2 separate regions of the Homo sapiens genome follow, and region 1 is linked to region 2. The links come from fine-mapping of genetic effects on gene expression. Tissue or cell type: testis. Region 2 holds a variant in brackets; the other region holds the start of a gene. All regions are shown on one strand. Distances are between the middles of the regions. Region 1 holds the start of CYP2E1 (cytochrome P450 family 2 subfamily E member 1). Region 2 overlaps LOC105378575 (a long non-coding RNA gene).

The links.
Region 1: it holds the start of CYP2E1, and the variant in region 2 is fine-mapped to the expression of CYP2E1 in testis (GTEx, PIP 0.92).

The regions. Positions count from the first base shown.
Region 1 is chr10:133,519,469-133,531,101 of GRCh38, forward strand. CYP2E1 (cytochrome P450 family 2 subfamily E member 1) reads left to right here and starts at 7,895. Exons shown (of 9, transcript NM_000773.4): 1 at 7,895-8,104; 2 at 9,013-9,172. The coding sequence starts at 7,928. It overlaps LOC105378575 (a long non-coding RNA gene), which reads right to left and starts at 7,491. Exons shown (of 5, transcript XR_946512.3): 1 at 7,292-7,491; 2 at 203-6,675. It also overlaps the pseudogene LOC124902569. RefSeq lists a silencer at 735-934, promoters at 4,183-7,902, 6,533-7,990, 7,349-7,902, enhancers at 4,192-4,512, 6,520-6,932, 7,221-7,348 and cis regulatory regions at 6,342-6,348, 7,574-7,598.
Region 2 is chr10:133,486,228-133,497,930 of GRCh38, forward strand. LOC105378575 (a long non-coding RNA gene) reads right to left here. Exons shown (of 5, transcript XR_946512.3): 5 at 5,197-6,614. Among named protein-coding and RNA genes, the nearest start is that of CYP2E1, 35 kb to the right of the region's middle. RefSeq lists an enhancer at 4,221-4,270 and a silencer at 11,296-11,375. The variant C/G (reference allele first, on the strand shown) is at 5,204.

The DNA of each region.
Region 1 (11,633 bases), 33 kb after region 2:
ACCCCAAGGGAAGAGGAGAGCAAAATACATAAAATACTTGAGTAGGCATTTCAGAGAAAAGTATGTATAATTTTGACAAGACAGAGATAGGGAGAGAAAGTTTCTCTACTTTATAATCAGGGAAATGCAAAATGGGACCACAGTTAAATATCATTTTATATTGACTAAATCGGAAAATATTAAGAAATTTATTAGTACATACTGTTGGGAATAACAGGAACACTTAGACACCACTGGACGCAGGTAAATGGTTCAAATACTTGGAAAACAATCTGGTTCCATGTATATTAGGTTGCCCAGGTATACACTTGGCCTAGAGATATTCTTACACAGTGCTCCAGGAATCATGTTCAAAAATGTTCCTAGTCTGCAGTAGCAAAACCTTGGGAATAATCGGACAGGACAGTGGTTAAACAAAGTGCCACATATTCGTATCTGTGGAGTCACAAAGTCGAGGAACTGCAGCAACACCTCACTACGTGGTAACGAAAAACGATGAGCAAAAAAATTCAAGCCTCCGGGAATATAAATGTTATGAAATCCCTTTAAAAATCCAATTACACAGTATAAAAAAGAAAATCACAGGGAACATTCAAAGCAAAATTCGGGACAGCGGCTACCTCTGGAGGGAGGCAGTTGGATGTGCGAGCTTCTGGTAGACGCAGCTTGAATGAGATGTTGTTTGGGGTTGGGAGTGGGCTGCCTGGGGTTCATACGTCACCACACTTGATAATTTACAGAAGCCTTTCACGCGTTTTTTCCTGTGTCTCAAACGGGGTACCAGGAGGCTCAGGGAAACAGCGCAGGCGCCTCCCCGGTGGCTTCTCTCTGGCGCCCTCTGGTGGGCGGGGCCCGGGTGAGCGGGGTCCCCTCGGGGCCTCAGGGAGCCGCAGCCCCAGCGGAACCAGGAGGGCGCCCTCCGCCCAGCCGCGCTGCCACTTCCGGGTTGTTTGCTCCCGGAGCCATAACCGCAGCTCAGCGTGCGGGCAGAGCCGGCTGACAGGAGACAGGACACAGCACAGAGCCCCGCGCCCTCTGAGGCGGGAGGCTTCGTTCCTGCACCAGCGTGGCTTGCCCTTTGGACGCGGCGAGGTTGTGTGTTCTCTGCTTTTGTTTTACTTGGAACAGATGTTTGGCTTTTGTCAAGGTCGTTATTTCCAGTGAAGTATGGCATCGAACATCAGATAGTTGCCCACACAAATGTCTGTTTTAAGGTTCTCAACCTTTTGACAATACAAAACAAGAGGAAGTTTCCAGGGGAAAGCCCTCAAATCAGCCATTCTGAGCATGTTTTCAGCCCCATCCGTACTCTCCTCCCTTCTTATCCAGAGCCTTTTGGGTGCCCAGAAGAGTAATATTCTTCTGCCTCGTAGCTCTGTGGTCCAAGGGTTTATGGCTACTGATTATCCTCCTAGAGCACTTCTGAGATGTTTTATGCTTTCTACTTGTGAGTGTGAAGGGAGGAGAGGCAAGTTTGCTGTCAGTCTGACAACATGTTTTTGCCACGTGATCTGCCACTGAAGAGAAGTTGGCTATGGAGGGAGGTCAAGTAGCCCAGGGAGGTGGGCATTCCAAGTGTACCTCCTCGTGCAGCCCACCCTCTCCACATAAAATTGGGTCCTGATTTTATGTGGAAGATGTTGTGTGTCTAGGAGCAGGAATCCATGGAAGACAAGATATGATATAGAAGAAACAGGCGAAGGGACTGGTACAGCATATATTTGAGGGCAAATAATCACTCGATAGGTGGCTGAAAATGTGAATGCCTTAGATAAAAATTAATTTATAAAACAGAAGTATATTTGAACAAATTTAAAACTAATATTCTAAAACTAAAATTCCTGAGATTTGGGGTAGAGTGTATATTGCAAGAGAAGTAGAGAAGAACAGTATGCTAAGGTCCCTTCTTGTTTAGATCAGAAGATATTGACAAATTATTCAAGTGAATAAAAAAACTATAGGTCTATATGTGTTTTCAGATTCAAGGGTAACCACCGGTAGAATAACAACAGGAGTCCAAATCATCAAGCAAAAAGAACAAACAAAAAATGATCAATCCGAACATAGGGAAAGGAAACACACATACACACATACATATACATACATACACACATGCACACACACACATGCACACACATACACACGCATACACACACACATACATTCACATCGTAACAGCCAAATTTAGTAATCGTGATAAATATGACCGTTTAATTCTATAAAAAGGAAAAACTTTCCGTTTATGTCAAAGCTATAGAATGTTTACAGGACACCTATCAAGAACAAAAATAACATAAAGATACTTTAAATATTATGATGAGCAGAGATAGACCAGGGAAATACTACGAAAAGCAAACACATGTAGCAACAGTTATCAGGGGAGTCAAAAAGATGTTTATATAACAGTAAAAGATACAATTAGAAGATTAATTGCCAATTTTAATACATATTAACATATCTGAGTAGATTTTTAAAATAAAAGATAATGTAATAAAACACGATTCTAGTCAGAGAAATCAAGGCACCTTACCTAGAAATGACAAGACCACATAGATCTTTTCTAAAGGCGACTTTTTTTTTTTTTTGAGACGGGAGTCTCGCTCTGTCACCCAGGCTGTACTGCAGTGGTGAGATCTTGGCTCACTGCAAGCTCTGCCTCCCGGGTTCACGCCATTCTCCTGCCTCAGCCTCCCGAGTAGCTGGGACTACAGGCGCCCGCCACTTTTTTGTACTTTTAGTAGAGAGGGGGTTTCACCGTGTTAGCCAGGATAGTCTCGATCTCCTGACCTCATGATCCGCCCGCCTTGGCATCCCAAAGTGCTGGGATTACAGGCGTGAGCCACCGTGCTCGGCCATAATGGTGACTTTTAAATTAAAAATAATTGATGGGGAAGGTCTTTTAGAAAACATTGTCTAAATTCCAAAGGCCATAAAGGAAAAGTCTGAAAAGTTTAACTGTATAAAAATCTAATTTTCTACATGGGAAATCAAACAAGAGACTGGGAGGAACTTCCAAACCATCAAACATGAAAACAACTACTATTTATTTGATAGACAAAGAGTCCTTAAAATCTGAGAGGAAATATGTAAAATCCCAATATGAAAAGGGAAGGAATTGTTTCATTAAAAAAGAAATTCAAATAAATAATCAGTAGATGAAAAGATGCTCTACTTCTTTATTGACCAGAGAAATGCAAATTAAAGTAATGACATATGAATTTTCAGTTATCGGTGACTGGCAGTATCTAGTGTTGGAGCAGATGTGTAGAAATTGGCTCTCCCATCCTACTGTGGGGGGTTTTAAGTGTTTCAACCTTTTGAGGAAGCAGTTTTATATACCTATTAACATTGTAAATCCACATATCCAGTGACCTAACCGTCCCACTCCCACAAAACTGACTTACAGAGATAGGTGCATGTCTGAACAAAGATACATCTACAGGGCACCATTGTGGCACCTTTTGTAACATAAATAGTTGGGGAAACCATTTGAATTGTTCATCAACTCAAAATAGACAAATTGTGAAATACAAAATGTAGTATGTGTGTGTATGTTTATATAAATTGTTTTTGAAGTTTGGAAGAATACACAGAATACTTACAACCATAGTATGGTACACACTATTGATTAGTAATCAATCCCATTCCTAATTCCCTTAATATTTTGACACATTCACTTAAAAGGTCTTTCCACTTTCCAGCCCCTCTTGCACAGAGGAGTGGTGACATTCTAACCAAGAATTTAAAAAATCTCAGATTTTCTGGAAGTTTCTTGGAAAGCTCTCATTTTCCTGATAAATAGGATAGACAAGAGAAGCACTTCTAGAATGGCAGGATAAGAAGCTCTGAAAATCTGTTCCTCCAGAACTGCAATGTGAACACCAGCTAAAGTGTTGAAAAATGAATGGAGCCTCAGAGACCTTTGGGACATCATCAAGGGTATCTAACAGGTACAATGGGAATCACAGAAAGAGAGAAAATAAGGGGACAAAAATACTATTTGAAGAAATAATGGGTGTAAATTCCCCAAATTTGATGAAAAAGATCCATCTACATATCCAAAAGCTTAATAAATGAATATTCATTTATTGTCATTTATTCATTTATTCTCAAAATAGAATAAATGAAAGGAGAGCCATACCTGCACACACTGTAGTCAAACAATCAAAGGGAAACTGGGAGTCCTGGAAGCAGCAAGAGTGAGATGAGTCGTCAGGTAAATCAGCCCTCGATAAAATAGCAGGAACCTGTTCACCCAAAACTGAAATGAGTCGTCAGGTAAATCAGCCCTTGATAAAACAGCAGGAACCTGTTCACCCAAAACCAAAATGAGTTGTCAGGTAAATCAGACCTTGATAAAATAGCAGCGCCTGTTCACCCGAAACCGAAATGAGTCATCAGGTAAATCAGCCCTGGATAAAATAGCAGGAACCTGTTCCGCCGAAACCAAATGAGTCGTCAGGTAAATCAGCCCTTGATAAAATAACAGCACTTGTTGACCAGAAGCCATGGGACCAGCAGGCAGTGAGATGACACAGTCAGGGCACTGAAGAAAAACACTGCTAACCAAGAATTCTATATCCAGAAAACATTCTTCCAAAAAGAGAGAAGTATTACAGCTCTTTAGAATTTGTCTAGCAGGTTTTCTGGTACCCTCCCCCATTAATTTATTAATTAAAATTTAAAATATGTCAGCCTTTTGGCTAAGATCAAATGTCAAAAAGAAAGAGAAATTAAGACATTCTTGGATAAACAACACCGAGAGAATTCACAAGCCTGTCATAAGAAATACTAAAGGAAGTCTCTTGGGTCAAAGTCAAAGAACACTAGTAACTCAAATGCACATTATACACAGAATTAAAGTAAGTGCCAAAAAGTATTTTAGTAGGTACAAAATTAAAACTGCAAATAATAAAAAGAGAATTAGCAGAATCTTTCCTTCTCAATGGGGTTTAAAATATGGAAGCTGCCTTTGTAGGGTGAATTTGGGACTCGCAGTTTCCACTTCACCCACTTTTGTGTTGTTTGCATTCGTTAAAAGGAGATATTTTACTTCCCCAATTAAAATTATCTTTCTAATCTTTATAAACAATTATTTAATTCCAGTAAATCTTCTCTATATTGCTTTACTAGTGAGTTCTATTAAAATTTTGAAGCACAGAAAATTCCCCTACAGTATAAAGTATCCCCAGTCACAGAGAAGACAGGGGTTTTGCAATGATTTCTAGAATAGTGCAATTTTTATGCAAGAACCTAATATAACACAAAAATTATAGCCCGATTTTATTTGTGGGTATAGATGCAAAATTACTAAAAATACTATTAACAAGTTGAATCCTTAGGGTGTTAAAAGAGTATCACTCCATGAACGAGTTGGTTGTGATGTGGAACTATGAGGTACTTTTATGATACAATATAAAAATTTATGGTAATTTTATGGTACATTGTGAGACAGTGTTTTCTTCTAGCATCATACTAGCAGGTCTATGGAGAAAAATCACAGGATTGTCTCAATCAAAAAAAGATTTCATTAACCCAACTCTCATCCCTGATAAACACTGTTAGTTATCTAGAGAAAGAAGAAAATTGTCCCAATACAGTCACCTCTTTGCCACACCCAGCCAACAGCAGACGTGATGGAAGCCTGAAGAACACCCTGCCACGGGCACAGGCAGAGGCACAGGCACCCTGTCGTCCTGATTATTTCACCTTGTCACGGGCAGAGGCACAGGCACCCTGTCGTCCTGATTATTTCACCTTGTCACGGACAGAGGCACAGGCACCCTGTCGTCCTGATTATTTCACCTTGTCACAGGCACAGGCACCCTGTCGTCCTGATTATTTCACCTTGTCACAGGCACAGGCACTCTGTCGTCCTGATTATTTCACCTTGTCACGGGCAGAGGCACAGGCACTCTGTCATCCTGATTATTTCACCTTGTCCTAGAGTGTCCTGCCAATGGGACAGATGCAAAACAAATAAAAGCCCCGGCTTCTGAAAAGAAGCACACAGAAATGTCATTATTTTCAAACGAGGTGTTCCCGTATATAAAATTTGATGTTGGTTGGGCATCTAACAGTATTATGGCCAGAGGACTCAGACCACAGCTGCATCCCTGTGAGGCACAGACTCTCCAGGGCACGCGGGTCCCGCCTGGGATGTGCACACTCAGGTGAGCTGCACAGACAAGGTGTCCTCAGCCCAGGGGAGCCAGAGGCCTGCTCTGCCTCTCCACCCTGATGCTTCCTGTTCTCACCCCACCAAAGCCAAGGCTTCAATTTCAGTCTGTGGGGAGCTGACTCTGCTGCTCTCAAGCACTAGAAGAAGGAACCAGTAATCGAGGAAACTTGTGGACCCCAATGGGTGTCTGTCCCGGCCAGGCCTGGCTGGGCCCACACAGGACAACAGGGTTCAGGGGTCTGGACAGCTGTTTCTGCCCAGGGAATTGTCCCTGCCACCTCACACTGGCCACTGGAAAGGAAAGAGAGGAGGAGGCGGCAGGCTAACCCACCCGTGAGCCAGTCGAGTCTACATTGTCAGTTCTCACCTCGAGGGGTGCCAAAAACCAGAGGGAAGCAAAGGCCCCTGAAGCCTCTGCCAGAGGCCAACGCCCCTTCTTGGTTCAGGAGAGGTGCAGTGTTAGGTGCAGCACAACCAATGACTTGCTTATGTGGCTAATAAATTGTCAAGAGAAAAACTGGGTTAGAATGCAATATATAGTATGTAGTCTCATTTTTGTATAAATACAAGTATAGAATGGCATAACTCAAAATCCACAAGTGATTTGGCTGGATTGTAAATGACTTTTATTTTCTTCATTTCTCATCATATTTTCTATTATACATAAAGATTCATTGTTAATATAAAAGTACAAAATTGCAACCTATGAATTAAGAACTTCTATATATTGCCAGTTAGAAGACAGAATGAAAAACATTCTCTTCATTCTAACCACACACACAAAAAAGCTCCACAAAATACCTATGGACTACCTTCATAGAAGGTGGAAGAGGGTCTGTATGAAGAAAATAATTAATACATGAAAGAAGAAGCTAGTCAATGTGGAGCTCTATTGTGTCCCGGGATCAACAAAGACAAGATATCTTTAAAATCGTCTTCTAAATTTACCCTAATGTAAAACAAATCCAATAAAACTCTAATGTAATTTTTTAAGAATTTAAATTTGGAATAATTCCAAAGAACAATTTTTCTTAATTTTCTACAGCCAGAATATATACCTTTAAAAAAAATGAAAACAGAGATTAACTTTCTCAGAATTGGTTGACTCACTCTTTCCTTTTATTTTTCTTCCATGGAATTTTCCAGTTAACTTGAGAAAGTGGAATCGAATTCCGATGTTGAATTTTCCTTCTGGCCCCATTCATGTGGCAGGTGGTGATTCAGGTACTACTGGGGGCTGCTCAGACAAACCTCCTCATCAGACATCAAGAGGCTGTTGCACCAGGAGGGCCGGTACCGTGTCTAGAGGTGGTCGGCATGGGGTTGGAGTTGTATTACATAAACCCTACTCCAAACAAATGCATGGGGATGTGGCTGGAGTTCCCCGTTGTCTAACCAGTGCCAAAGGGCAGGACGGTACCTCACCCCACGTTCTTAACTATGGGTTGGCAACATGTTCCTGGATGTGTTTGCTGGCACAGTGACAGGTGCTAGCAACCAGGGTGTTGACACAGTCCAACTCCATCCTCACCAGGTCACTGGCTGGAACCCCTGGGGGCCACCATTGCGGGAATCAGCCTTTGAAACGATGGCCAACAGCAGCTAATAATAAACCAGTAATTTGGGATAGACGAGTAGCAAGAGGGCATTGGTTGGTGGGTCACCCTCCTTCTCAGAACACATTATAAAAACCTTCCGTTTCCACAGGATTGTCTCCCGGGCTGGCAGCAGGGCCCCAGCGGCACCATGTCTGCCCTCGGAGTCACCGTGGCCCTGCTGGTGTGGGCGGCCTTCCTCCTGCTGGTGTCCATGTGGAGGCAGGTGCACAGCAGCTGGAATCTGCCCCCAGGCCCTTTCCCGCTTCCCATCATCGGGAACCTCTTCCAGTTGGAATTGAAGAATATTCCCAAGTCCTTCACCCGGGTAAGAGAAATAGTGTTGATTTTAGGGAGAATAACTCAGCAATTGGATCTGGTATGTGTGTATTCAACTCATTTGCAGACAAATTGTGGTTGTTCAATACCAGCCTGTTGTGAATTACCTGAATTGATAGCATCCTGGAGCGACACTCAAAATGTGTCGCCTGTGGTGCAGCTGGAGCCCGGAGCCTGCGTGCCAGGCCCCGGAGGCCCCCGCCGGTGCCTTGTCCTGGGGCTGATGATGGGGAGGCCGGCGAGGCCGGGCTGCTGCGACGCCAGGATAACCGGGCTGGCGGCCAGATGCGCACTCGCTGGGCGTCCGCCTGTGTTTGCCAAAGCACGAGTTGAAACGTGAAGTGTTGGGCCAGCCCGTGTGGCACCAATACCTGCCGCCTACGACTGTTGTGAACACTGAATGGGCCAACAAACCTAAACGTTAAATGAACTGATAACGCCGTCAGCACGGAGCAGGCGCTGGGTGTTTGCGCTCTTGCGCGTGCGCTCTGTGGGGCGCAGGCTGACGGCGGGCGGGGGTCGCCTGCTCCAGCTCGGGCTCCCGCGCCAGAACCGGGTCCAGAACCTTGATTCCGGAAGCGGGCAACGGGGTGGTTGGTGGGCGCGCCTGAGGGAAGGGACGTGAGGAGCCGGAGTCCGCGGAGTTGCCGCGGAGTTGTCCGCGGAGTCCAGGCGGGTGGGGAGCAGAGCAGCTGGAACCCCCCGAGCGCCCTGCAGACGCAGCAGCCTCTTGAGGGGAGGGTCTCCCCCACCTCGGGCTGGACAAAGACAGCTTTTCCCCACGTCCCTCTGGGTTCTCTAGAGCAACAGCAATACCCGCCCGGCAGGGGTGTGGCTTAGAGCCCCGCACCTCCTCGCCGCGCGGCGGGCCTGACTTCTAGCCACGGGTCTCCGCAGTTGGCCCAGCGCTTCGGGCCGGTGTTCACGCTGTACGTGGGCTCGCAGCGCATGGTGGTGATGCACGGCTACAAGGCGGTGAAGGAAGCGCTGCTGGACTACAAGGACGAGTTCTCGGGCAGAGGCGACCTCCCCGCGTTCCATGCGCACAGGGACAGGGGTGAGTCCGCGTCCCTGGCACGGAGCGGGGGGTGCATAACACGCCCCGGGACAGTTACGGGCGCTAGCCACGTCGGCGATGGCCAAATAATAAACTAACAGTAATATTATAGTAACAGCATCCGAAGGATGAGATCAGGATTAGGGCGATGGCCCCCGCGCGTTGCCTGCGGAGCGAGGCGCACTGAGTCGCCCAGGAATCCGGCCTCTCGGCGACTGTGCGGGAGAGTTTATGGGGATGGGCGGGGCTGCTTCTGAGCAGGAGTCGCCGCCCCCACCCCCACCGTTCCGCCTCTGGGCCCGCAGGCTCCTCCCGGGAGCGCTTTCCCCTCCTGTTCAACCGCCGGGGTACAGGTGGCTTCGTCCACCGAGGTCCCCTCACCCACGCTGAGGCGTCGGAAGCTGCGGACACTGCTCGCTTCAGGGCTTTGCTCAGCTGCAGCTGGTGACCTCCAGAGAGGGAGTCTCTGATGTCCCGCTGGGGTGGATGTCCTGAGACCGGGAAGGGGGAAGAGACCCACTGAAATCCTATCTCCCAGCCTCACCTCTGCTGTCTCCTCCACGCTTCCTGTCTCCAGAGCCCCGAGTTCAGCATAAGCAGAAAGCGGCCTGTTCCCTCTCTAGGGAGAGGAGGGTTGCGGTCTGGAGGTCTGGCTCGTCTTTATCTGCGCATTCTCCCAGCCTCCTGGCTTCAGACCTCAGCGAGGCGGCGGCTGCCGGCCGGCTCTCCTCTTCCTGCCTGCAGACCTGGCCTGCTGCTTCTTTCTCCTTCCTCCCTCCCTGCCTGCCCTGCGGTTTCAAAGTAGATTAGAAATAACAGTGTCCCACATGGAAGCCTCTACTTCTTCCTGGGTCAACTTTGATGACGAGGCTCCAGAAAACCTTTGCAATGCTGTGTGGAATTTTTAAATCGGTGAGCTCGTGCTCTTGCCCTATTTATTTGTCCAGCGTACATTTCTGAACATTGTGAACGTCGAATGGGCCAACAAATCTAAAAATTAAATGAGCTGATAAAGAACGCCGTCAGCACAGAGCAGACGCTGGGTGTTCGCGCTCTTGAGCGTGCGCTCTGCGGGGCGCGGGCTGGTGGCGGGCGGGGGTCGCCGGCTCCAGCTCAGGTTCCCGCGCCAGGACCGCGTCCAGAACCTTGTCTCCGGAAGCGGGCAACGGGGTGGTTGTATCACAATTAGTGGCATTTGGTTTTCCTTCTTCTGCATTGTGGGTTTTACTTCTCTGGGGTTGCCAAAAACAAAATTAACCATCTCAGTCCTTGTCGTTAACGCAGGAGAAGCATTACTGGAGGAGGCTCTGGGGTTCTGTGGTTGAGGAGCTCAGTTCTGGTTCCGGGGAGCCCTTATCTGCCACCCACGGGTCCAAGGCACAGTCGGAGGCAGCAGGGAGGGGAGCGGAATTCACATCAACACAGATGGGGCTCAAGGGGACTTTGCTGCCTCTGCCTGGAGGGTCTAAAGTTTCATTTTCATATGACCCGCAGGGCGCAGACTGGCGGAAAATTAGCAGAGCCCTGGGCATGGGCTGCACCTGGCCCTTAAGGGACAATGATGGAAATATTCCTTATTAGCACAATACTGAGCACAGGCTGTGTGATAATGTGTCAAGGGAACTGCAGACATCCTTTCAGAAAAAGTTCATAAAACGGAGAAAGTTTGGTTCCCAACCTAGATTTTTAACCTGTTGAACTCTGTCTAAATGGGTCATCTCGGGATGTCCTCCACTCAACATGACCACGTCTGCCCCTCTGTCCCACCTGTCTCCTCAGTCCTTCCTCCCCACCTTTCAGGATGAAATGAAACCCTCAGTCCAGCTGCACCCCTGCCCCACCCACCTCATCTCATGTGCCCTCCCGCCCCTCTCAGGCCGGACAGCCTTGCTTCTGGAACACACGAGCACAGCTTCACCAGGCACTTTCTGAGCACCCTGCAGGCGCCTCCCAGGAGTGGTCAGTGGTCAATCAGCTAATGAAGCTGCATAGGACATGACCCTTGTTTACCGCAGAATGCCCAGAGCTGGCAGGATGTCTTATATGCAGGAAGTACCCAAAATGTATTTATTGAGGAAGTGATGATGGATAAGAGGAAGACGGAGAGCGAGGGAGAGAGGGGCTAGGGGCCCCTGCGGTGTAAAGGGGGTGTGGCTGGGAGTGTGCAGGGGAACAGGGATCATTTCAAGGTTCCTATCTGGGAGAAAATAAAAAGGTTTACAGTTAGTTGAGATAAGCGTGGGAATATGCGAACATTTTTAAAGAATAAAAAGTTTAGCTTTAAATTTGTTGATTCCAAATGTGTTCATACTCTCGGGAGGATCCATCAAGCAACTCTTGGGAGGAGAGACAGGGCAGGGCCAGGCCTTGACAGCTCAGAAGGGTGCAGTAGGGACAGTTCTTGGTTTTCCCAGCTCTGATGCTTTGCACAGTCACTTGTGTGACCTGCAAGATTTTAGTG
Region 2 (11,703 bases):
CTGAAGTCCCCAACTATTATTGTAGTGGGGTCTACCTCTCCCTTTAGATCCAATGATATTTGCTCTATATATCTGGGTGCTCTAGTGTTGGGTGCATATATATTTAAAATTGTTATGTTCTCTTGATGAGCTGATCCCTTTATTATTATATAATGTCCTTCTTTGTCTCTTTTTACAGTTTTTAGCTTGAAATCTGTACTTTCTGATATAAATACAGGTACTCCTGCTTGTTTTTTTTGTTGTTTGTTTGTTTTTTGTTTTGACGGAGCCTCATTCTGTTGCCCAGGCTGGAGTGCAGAGGCACTCTCTCGGTTCACTGCAACCTCTTCCTCCCAGGTTCAACTGATTCTTCTGCCTCAGCCTCCTGAGTAGCTGGGATTACAGGTGTGTGCCACCATGCCCAGCTAATTTTTATTTTTGTATTTTCAGTAGAGATGGGGTTTCACCATATTGGCCAGGCTGGTCTGGAACTCCTAACCTCGTGATCTGCCTGCCTCGGCCTCCCAGAGTGCTGGATATATGGATGTGAGCCACCGTCTCTGGCACTTTTGGTTTTCATTTGCATGAAATATCTTTTTCCATTCCTTTCTTCACTTTCAGTCTTTGTGTGTCTTTATAGGTAAGGCAGCGCATATAGTTGGGCCTTTTTTTTTTTTTGTCCTTCAGCCAGTCTCTAGCTTTTAAATGGGCAATTTAATCTATTTACATTCAAAGTTATTACTGATAGGTGGCAACTTACTCCTGTTATTTTATTGATTGCTTTCTGGTTGCTTTGTATATTCTTTGGTCCTTGCTTCATCTGTTATTATTTATTTTTGCAGTTGGGTGGTTTTCTGTAGTGATAAGGCTTGATTCCTTTATCTTTCCCCTTTGTTATATCAGTTAGTTTTATAGTTTTGCATGTTTTCATGATGGGTTATTGTCTTTTCACTTCCAAATGTAAGGCTCCCTTGAGCATTTCCTGTAAGACTGCTTTAGTGGTGATGAATTCCCTCAATTTTTCCTTCTCAAGAAAAATTGTTTCTCCTCCATTCTTGAAGGATAGATTTGCTGGATATAATATTCTTGGTTGACAGGTTTTTAAAAATTTATTTCAGTACTTTGAATATATCATCTCATTCTCTTCTGACCTGTAAGGTTTCTGCTGAGAAATCTGCTGTTAATCAAACTGGGATTCCCTTATATCTGAATTGATGCTTTTCTCCTGCTACTTTAAAAATTCTTTATGTTTGACTTTTGACAGTTTGACTATAATGTGCCTTGGAGAGGACCTGTTTGGGTTGAATCTATTTGGGGTTCTTGGAGCTTCCTGGGCTTGGACATTCATCCCTCTCCCAAGATTTGGGATTTTTCTGCTGTTATTTCATTAAATGTGTTTTCCATTTCCCTTCTTTTCTCCTCCTGGAATGCCCAGAATATTTGTTTGCTTAATGGTGTCCCATAAATCCTGCAGGCTTTCTTTATTCCTTTAAATTATTTTTTGTCTGCCTGTATTATTTCAAAAGACCTATCTTCAAGTACAGAAGTTCTTTCTTCTCCTTTGTTTAATCTGTTGTTGAAGTGCTTGATTGTATATTTTAATTTCATTCATTGAATTCATCAGCTGAGGATTTCCATTTGGCTCTTTTTAATGATATCTACCATTTAGTTAAATTTCTTATTCAAATCATAAATTATTTTCTAATTTCATTGAATGTTGTATCTGTATTCTCTTGTAACTCACTGAGTTTCCTTAAGATTATTATTTTGAATTCTTTTTCTGGCATTTTATATATTTCCTTATGATTGAGATCTGTCATAGGAGAATTATTATTTTTCTTTGGAGGTGACATGTTTCTTTGCGTTTTCAAGGTTAATGTGTTGAGGTGTCTCTATGTTGATTTCTATACATCTGGTGGGAAAAAAAATCACCTCTTTTGCTTGTATGGAGTAAGTTTTGAAGCAAAAGACTCATTCATGTGAATGGGCCTCAGGGCATCAGTTCAGTGGGGTGCATTGCCCTGGGCTCTAGATGGATGCAGTAATGTAGTCTCTGTGTAGTCTTTTCAGCTGTAATCTACATTAGTGGTGTTTCAAGTTTCTCAGTGGCCTAGTCTGAGAGAGTCTGTGGCACTGGCGGTGCAGCTTTCCCTCTCCTTTTTAAAGAGCTTGTGTACTTAGGTCAGGCTTACCAGGCTGTTTCTCAGGTTGGGATGTGTGTGCATATGCACAATGGGCTGGTCAACTTGAGGTCTGGCTCCCTGGGGTTGGGGCCACTGGGCTGTTACTCTGGCCAGGAGCATGAGCATAGATATTTGGCCAGCTTATGGGCATGCTCACCATGGGTGGCTGACAGGGCTGTTTCTCAGGCCTGGTATGCAGGCACAGGGCTGCTTGACTGGCCTGGGGGTGTGTCTGCTGCAGGCAGCCCATGGGACTATTTCTCAGACCCAGGACACAGCTGCATGACTGCTCAGCTGGCCTGAGTGTGTGTCTGCTGGGGGTGGGCCACCAGGCTGTTTCTTGGACCTGGGATGTGGGTGTACATCTGCTCAGCTGGACTGGGGATTTGCCCACCAGGGTTGGCCAGCTGAGCTGCTTTTCAGTCCCAGGGCACACAACTGCTTGGTTATTCTGGGGGTGTTTTGCAAATGGCAGCCCCTAGAGCAGTTTCTCAGCCACTGATTGTGGACACAGGGCCATTGGACAAGTCAGGGCCTTGTCTGCAGGGAATAGGGCACCTCAAAACTGTTACTCAGACCCTGAATATAGGCACATAGCCACTCCACTGGCCTGGAAGTGTGTCAGCTACTCAGAGGCTTGAGGGCCTCTCCGACTTGGAGGAGGGCATGCAGCAGTGTGGCTGGCTCAAGGGCAGTTTTGCCCTGGGTGGGACTGCCAGACTTTTCCTCTGTCTGGAAGTGAGGGTGGTAGGAGTTGGTTTTTCTGCTCTCCAGGGTCACAGCCAATCCTGGGCCCAGGCTTCATGCTGCCAGCATTGTGGTGCTCGGCCACCAGTGTGGGCTTGGTGGAACAAAGACAGAGCTCCAGTGCTGGAAAGGTGCAGTGGATACTGGCCTCCAGAATAGGGTGCACTCCAGACATGACTCTGGTCTCAAGATGGTGCCCTGCTGCAGCAGACTGGCTTACAGGGGATAGTTGGGGGATGGGGAGTGCACATATTGTGCTCCTAATCTAGGGCAATGAAGCTGTGTGAATGCCCTGCAGCTCTCCAAACTGGGTGACGGTGGGATTCTCCTGTTGTAAGGACTTTAGGTGTTTGCAGTGGCAATCAGGGATGGTGGGGATCTTTTGTTTATCTGCAATAAGTGACTCCTGACATTAGGCAGTTCTGATCTTGATGAGGGACAAGGGGTTTCAGAGGCCAAGTGCTTCCACACTGCCCTCCTGGACTTCTAATCACCACAGGTGCATTTCCACTCCTCTTTTGCATACCAGCACTCTTCCTTCAACACTCCAGTCAACACTGAGCTGTTTATTTTTTGCTTTGGTTCCTTCTTGTCTGGGGTGGCGGGTGGGGAGGAGATGAATACCAGGCATCTCTAGTCAGCTATCTTATTCCCAAGCTTAGAGGCTCTCTAATGCTAGGTCACATAGGCAGGCCTCCTTTATGGCTCTAGGTGGTACCTTAAAAACAAGCTCCCCTTGGCTCTAGTAAATGGTTAGAGCACTGCTCTTCTCGAGTTAGAGGTGGGGAAGTCCCAAAGGGATATCCCAGTAGTGTGGGAAGGCTGGCTAGGGGTTTGTACCCAGGGGACCTGTGGGATGAAACTCCTACAGCATGGTGCTGCTGAACATCCACTGTAATTTGCATCTTCTGTGGCTGAGTTTCAGAGCAGAGTTTCCAGGGCTGGAGGTGGTAGTCCCACCTCCCCACTTTGTCTCTGCCTGTCTTCAGGGATACTTCTTGATGCTTCCCATGGGCTAAGGTAGGGACGGTTCTCCTGCCAGGGAACCCAAAATGGTGGGGAAGCTGTTTGTCTCCTCCATTTTGCTTTTCTCAGTGTAGAAACAATGAGTTGGGGAAATTTTTCAACACATGTGGTGCCAGGCAGAATGGGGGAGGGGGCATTGCAAATGTGGGTGTCTAGTTCTCTTACCAACTACTCAGAGTGTTTTCACTTCTCTGTGGGCCTGGAAGTGGTCTCATCTTTTTATTTGAGTTCTGGGATATTTCTGGTGATAATCTTTGTTTTTGGTTTTCTGTGGGAGAGAGTGAAACCAGTTTGCTTCTATTCTACATTGCCTTTTGAAACTAGAAAAAAAACCTCTCTTTTTTGAAGAGCTTGTGTGCTTAGGTCAGGCTTACCAGGAAAATCTCACTGTCTTAAGGTTAACTATGCCATGTAATGTAACATAATCACATGTATGTTAAAAGTGCTACTTGAATTAATAAGTGAGTTTATCAAGGTCATATAAAGTAAAACATACAAAAATAAATAGTGTTTTATGTACTAATAACAAGGATTGGAAATTGCAATCAAATAAACACCATTTGCAATTGCATCAAAGGCATGAAATAAGGATAAATTTAGCAAAATGTGTTTAAGACTTAAGTACTATGATCACAGCATTGTTGCTAAAACTCAAGGGAGATAAAAATAAGTGGAGATACACGCTATGATTGCAGAGTCAATATTGATAATATTTCAGTTCTTCCAAAATTGAACTAGTACCTAGAAATTGACATTTGATTTTAAATTTTATATGGTTATTCAAATGTCATATAGTATTTTACACAATTTTGAAGAACAAGAAAGAACATAATTAGGGAAATAAAATGACTTGATTTGAACATTTACTTTAAAGCTATTATTTAAAGACAGTCTGCTATTGATATAAGGATAAATATGTAAGGATAAATATTCAGAAATGAATAAACCTATACCTAAATGGTCAATTGATCTTTAACGAAGGATCAATACAGTTTAATCTAATCAGGGAAAAGATAGTCTTTTTTTTTTTTTTTAATGGAGTCTTGCTCTGTCACCTAGGCTGAAGTACAGTGGTGTGATCTCGGCTCACGGCAACCTCTGTCTCCCAGGTTCAAGCAATTCTTATGCCTCAGCCTCCAGAGTAGCTAGGATTACAGGTATGTATCACCATGCCCAGCTAATTTTTGTATTTTTAGTAGAGACAGGGTTTCACATGTTGGCCATGCTGGTCTTGAACTCCTGACCTCACGTGATCTGCCCACCTCGGC[C/G]TCCCAAAGTGCTGGGTTTACAGGCATGAGCCTCCATGCCCAGCCAAAAGATAATCTTTTCAAAAATGGTGTTGAAACAACTGGTTACTTATATATAGAAAAGAAATAACTGGTTATGTATATAGAAAAGAATGAACCATAATCCCTCCCTCAAACCATATATGAACATTAAACAGATCATATACCAAAACAGTAAAGCTAAACTAAAAGCTACTAGAAAAAATATGCAACTTTTGGGTATACAAAAATTTTGTAGGTAGTACACACACAAAAAGCACAAACCACCAAAGAAAATAATTTACAAAGTAGGCTTTATAAAAATTAGAAACCTCTGCTTTTTGAAAGACATAGATAAGAAAATGAAAAGGCAAACCACAAACCTGGAGAAAATATTCATAACATATATATTAGACAAAAGTTGTATTTCCATATTATATAAATAATTCTAAAAATTCAATAATAGGGAGACAATCAACCTAATTGTTTTTTAAAATGGTTAACTGATACAAACAGACCCTACATAAAAGAACTTATATGCATAGCCAATCAGCATGTGAAAAGATGTTCAACGTCATTAGTCATCAAGGAACTAGAAATTATAAGCAAAATGGGATACCATTAGAGACCCACTAACATTAAAGAAACTGACAATTTCAAGTGTTGGAAACAATGTAGAACAACTGCAACAACCGTAAATTTCTGGTGGAAATGTAAAATGGCAAAACTACTTTGGGGAAAAAATGGCTTTTTTTAGAAAGTTGAACGTATACTCCTAGGGATTTATATAAGAGCTTGAAAAACATATATCAACACAAAGGCCTATGTATTTATGCTTACCCCAACTTTATCCAAATTAATCTAAAGCTAAAATTAAGACAAATATCCATCAATAGATGATGGACAAAACAATTGTGATATATCTATATAATGGAATAGGATTTAGCAATCTATATAATGGAGTATAATTATATGAATGTGATACATCTATATAATGGAATAGGACTTAGCATGCATTCATCCATGCACCAACATGGATGAATCTGAAAAGTGTTTAGATTAGCAAAAGAAGATAGATACAAAATAAGTTCATATTGTATAATTCCATTTATATAAAACTGCACAATAAGAGAACTAATGTAAAGTGAGAGAATAGTGATTGCTTGGGGCTGAGATGAAGGATTTGTATCAAAAGGGCAGAGAAGAGCTTGTTAGGGTAATTGAAACGTTCTGTATCATGATGTGGAGGTGTTTACATGGGTGTATAAGCTTTTGAGAACTTATCAAATTATACACAAATATGTACATTTTATTATATGGAAATTATATCTCATTAAAGTTGATACAAAACAAGAATCCAGAACTCTATTTTGACATCTGGTGGACATCGCTCCAATCATGATTCCATGTCTCTCTGCATATACAGAAAGAAAGTTAAATTTGTATAGCTAGAGAACTGCTTAGATTAGGTTGAAAGATAAAATTTTATGAGAATATCATATATGTTTTAAAAGCAAGTTTTAGCTATATTTACTAATAAAAAGAAAGGAAACTGATGAAGCTAAAGAAGTTCAGGAAAATATTTCTCATAAAGATTAGTTTCCAAGAAACTACATTACTACATATCCTCACCCTGTGAGGGCACAAAACGCCCTGACAAACCTCATTTCAGTTTTTCCTTCTTGGAGATTAGTCTGTTATTCTTAAATCAGGGGCTTATCAGGGTCTCTGTGTTTCTTCCCAGGGAAAGAGTGGGCATCTAGAATGTGGGAGGTAATACATAATACCTCCAAATCTCCAGGGCGTATTTATTTCTTCAGACATCATGCTTACTGCCCCCCACTTTTTTTTTTTTTTAGAAAGAAAGAACAAAAAAGAGAAGGAGAGTAAATTCTTGTTTCCAAGTTAGACAAGAGAGTTATGATTAAATGCCACCTTGGGTCCACAAGTCTTCCATAAGAAAAACAATGAAAGGATTTCTGGATGATTCTATTATGACATCACAACTTGCAGCAGAGGCAGATGTAATGAGGCAATACTTGACATTGTTTTCAGGGCATTTGGTAGGTTCAATGGGAAACAAAACTCTTAAAACCCCTATCTGCTGGCTGGTGCTTAAAGTTTCTATCTCAATTGTCTTAGTCCATTTAGTGTTGCTATAAAGGAATAGCTGGGGCTGGGTAATTTGTAAAGAAAAGAGGTTTATTTGGCTCATGGTTCTGCAGGCTGTACAGGAATCATGGTGCCAGCATTTGCATCCGATGATGGCACAGGCTGTTTTCATGCATGGTGGAGGGTGAAGTGGAGCTGGCGTGCAGGGATCACATGGCAAGGCAAGAGGGGAAGTGAGTGAGTGAGTGAGCAAGACAAAGAGGGGAAGTGTATTAGTCCATTTTCATGCTGCTGATAAAGACATACCTGAGACTAGGCAATTTACAAAAGAAAGAGGTTTAACTGGACTTACAGTTCCACGTGGCTGGGGAAGGTCTCAGAATCATGGTGGAGGGCGAAAGGCACTTCTTACATGGCAGTGGCAAGAGAGAATGAGGAGGGAGCAAAAGCAGAAACCCGTGATAAACCCATCAGATCTTGTGAGACTTTTTCACTACCATGAGAATAGCACAGGAAAGACCAGCCCCTATGATTCAATTACCTCCCACTGGGTCCCTCCCACAAAACATGGGAATTCTGGGAGATATAATTCAAGTTGAGATTTGGGTGGGGGCACAGGCAAACCATATCATTCCACTCCTGGCCCCTCCCAAATCTCATGTTCTCACATTTCATAATCAATCATGCCTTCCCAACAGTCCCCCAAAGCCTTAACTCATTTCAGCATTAACTCAAAAGTCCACAGTCCAATGTCTCATCTGAGACAAGAAAACTCCCTTCTGCTTACAACCCTGTAAAATCAAAAGCAAGTTAGTTACTTCCTAGATACAATGTGGGTACAGGCATTGGGCAAAAACAGCCATTCCAAATGGGAGGAATTGGCCAAAACAAAGGGGCTACAGGCCCCATGCAAGTCCAAAATCCATCAGGGCAGTTAAATCTTAAAGTTCCAAAATTATTTCCTTTGACTCCACATCTCGCATCCAGGTCACACTGATGCAAGAAGTGGGTTCCCATGGTCTTGGGCAGCTCCGCCCCTTGGCTTTGCAGGATACAGCCTCCCTCCCGGCTGTTTTTATGGGCTGGTGTTGAGTGTCTGTGGCTTTTCCAGGCACACAGTGCAAGCTATCAGTGGATCTATCATCCTGGGGTCTGGAGGATGGTGGCCCTCTTCTCACAGCTCCAATAGGTGGTTACCCCATTAGGGATTCTGTTTGGGGGCTCTGACCCCACATTTCCCTTCTGCACTGCTGTGGCAGAGGTTCTCTATGAAGGCCTTGCGCTTGCAACAAACTTTTGCCTGGGCATCCAGGCATTTCCATACATCTTCTGAAATCTAGGCGGAGGTGCCCAAACCTCAATTCTTGACTTCTGTGTACCCACAGGCTCAACACCATGTGGAAGGTGCTAAGGCTTAGGGCTTGCACCCTCTGAAGCCATGGCTGGAGCTTTACCTTGGTCCCTTTTAGTCATGGCTAGGGGCAGCTGGGACACAGGACACCAAGTCCCTTGGCTGTACACAGCATGGGGACCCTGGGCCTAGCCCAGGAAGCCATTTTTATCTTGTACACCTCCAGGCCTGTGATGAGAAGGGCTGCTGTGAAGACCTCTGACATGCCCTGGAGAGGCATGTCTTTTCCCCATTGTCTTGTGAGTTAACATTCTGCTCCTCGTTACTTATGCAAATTTCTGCAGCTGGCTTAAATTTCTCCCCAGAAAATGGGATTTTCTTTTTCTATTGCATTGTCAGGCTGCAAATTTTCCAAACTTCTATGCTGTGCTTTCCTTATAAAATGGGATGCCTTTAACAGCACCTGAATCACCTCTTGAATGTTTGCTGCTTAGAAATTTCTTCCACCTGATACCCTAAATCATCTCTCTCTGGTTCAAAGTTCCACAGGTCTGTAGGGCAGGGGAAAAATGCTGCCAGTCCCTTTGTTAAACATAACAAGAGTCACCTTTGCTCCACTTCCCAACAAGTTCCTAATTTCCATTTGAGATCACCTCAGCCTGGACTTTATTGTCCATATTGCTATCAGCATTTTGGGCAAAGTCTCTAGGAAGTTCCAAACTTTCCCACATTTTCTTATCTTCTTCTGAGCCCTCCAAATTGTTCCAACCTCTGCCTGTTACCCAATTCCAAAGTCAATTCCACATTTTTGGGTATCTTTTCAGCAACACAACAGCCCACTCCTGGTACCAAAATCTGTATTAGTCAGGGTTCTCTAGAGGGACAGAACTAATAGGATAAATATTATATATGTATATATATATGTATATATGTAAATGGGAGTTTATTAAATATTAACTAACATGATCACGAGGTCCCCACAATAGGCTGTCTGCAAGCTGAGGACCAAGGAGAGCCAGTCCAAGTCCCAAAACTGAAGAACTTGGAGTCTGATGTTTGAGGGCAGGAAGCATCCAGCATGGGAGAAAAATGTAGGCTGGAAGGCTAAGCCAGTCTTGCCTTTTCATGTTTTTCTGCCTGCTTTATATTTGCTGGAAGCTCATTAGATGGTGTCCACCTGATTAAGGGTGGGTCTGCCTTCCCCAGCCCACTGACTCAAATCTCCTTTGGCAACACCCACACAGACTCACCTAGGGTTAATACTTTTTACAGTCCTTATTTCTGCAGCTGGTCATGTGGTCGTAGCTGGTATTGATGACTACCTTCTTCTATCACCCACTGTGTATTCCCTTTGCCTTCTGCAAGCACCTCATCAGATCAAGGTTTTTTTCCTGGTGGAGTGACTTAAACCTTCATTCCTGAAGGGTCTGGACCATTTGTAGTCCTCCCTGGATTGGGCTGTTGTAGTTTCTCATTGACCTTAATCACAGGGCATGGTAATACTAAGTGACATCCTAATGGATCTCCTGTATTCCATGCATGCTCCTCCTTACCTCTGTTATGGAGTAGTAGACTGATTTCATCTTGATAGTCTGGGTCAATCAACCTAGCCAACACTGTAACTCCCTTCTTAGCCTGTTTACTTAAAGGTAGGAGGAGCCCGAAGTGTCCAGGTGACAATCTTAACTTTCAGTTTAATGGAATTGTTGTTGTGTCTCCTGGTGGCAGTGTTACTCCCTCTGGAACTAAGATCTCTAGGCTAGCAGAACGTAATGTTGCAGGAACAGGAAGCAAAAATTTTGCTACTGGATCATTAGGGGTGATGGTGAGTGGTGCCACTTCCACTTCCACCCCTTGATTCCTGGACCCGTGAATCCTGGCTATGGGAGAAACAGTACCATATATCAGATGCTGATCCAGTGCATACACAGCCTTCTAGAGTACTTTGCCCCAGCCCTGCAAAGTATTGTCATCTAATTGACATGGTAATTGTAGGGTCCAGCCCCACAGGGTTGGTGCATTTTCTCCTTCTGTGTGGAGACGAGAGAGCGTAGAAATAAAAACACAAGACAAAGAGATAAAAGAAAAGACAGCTGGGCCCGGGGGACCACTACCACCAAGATGCGGAGACTGGTAGTGGCCCCGAATGCCAGGCTGCACTGATATTTATTGGATACAAGACAAAGGGGCAGGATAAGGAGTGTGGGCCATCTCCAATGATAGGGAAGGCCACATGGATCACATGTCCCCTGGACAGGGGGCCCTTTCCTGCCTGGCAGCCGAGGCAGAGAGAGAGAGGAGAAAGAGAAACAGCTTACACCATTATTTCTGCTTATCAGAGACTTTTAGTACTTTCACTAATTTGCTACTGCTAACTAAACGGCAGAACCAGGTGTACAAGATGGAACATGAAGGCAGACTAGGAGTGTGACCACTGAAGCACAGCATCACAGGGAGACGGTTAGGCCTCCGAATAACTGTGGGTGGGCCTGACTAATGTCAGGCCTTCCACAAGAGGTGGAGGAGTAGAGTCTTCTCTAAACTCCCCTGGGGAAAGGGAGACTCTCTTTCCCGGTCTGCTAAGTAGCGGGTGTTTTTCCTTGACACTAACGCTACTGCTAGACCACGGTCTGCTTGGCAATGGGCATCTTCCCAGATGCTGGCGTTACCGCTAGACCAAGGAGCCCTCTGGTGGCCCTGTCTGGGCATAACAGAAGGCTCACACTCTTGTCTTCTGGTCACTTCTCACTATGTCCCTTCAGCTCCTATCTCTGTATGGCCTGGTTTTTCCTAGTTTATGATTATAGAGTGAGGATTATTATAATATTGGAATAAAGAGTAATTGCTACTAATGATTAATGATATTCATATATAATCATATCTAAGATCTATCTCTGGTATAACTATTCTTATTTTATATTTTATTATACTGGAACAGCTCGTGTCCTCGGTCTCTTGCCTTGGCACCTGGGTGGCTTGCCACCCACAGCAATTGTGACTTTGAAAGGCCATTCCACCGTTCTATCAATCCAGCTGCTTC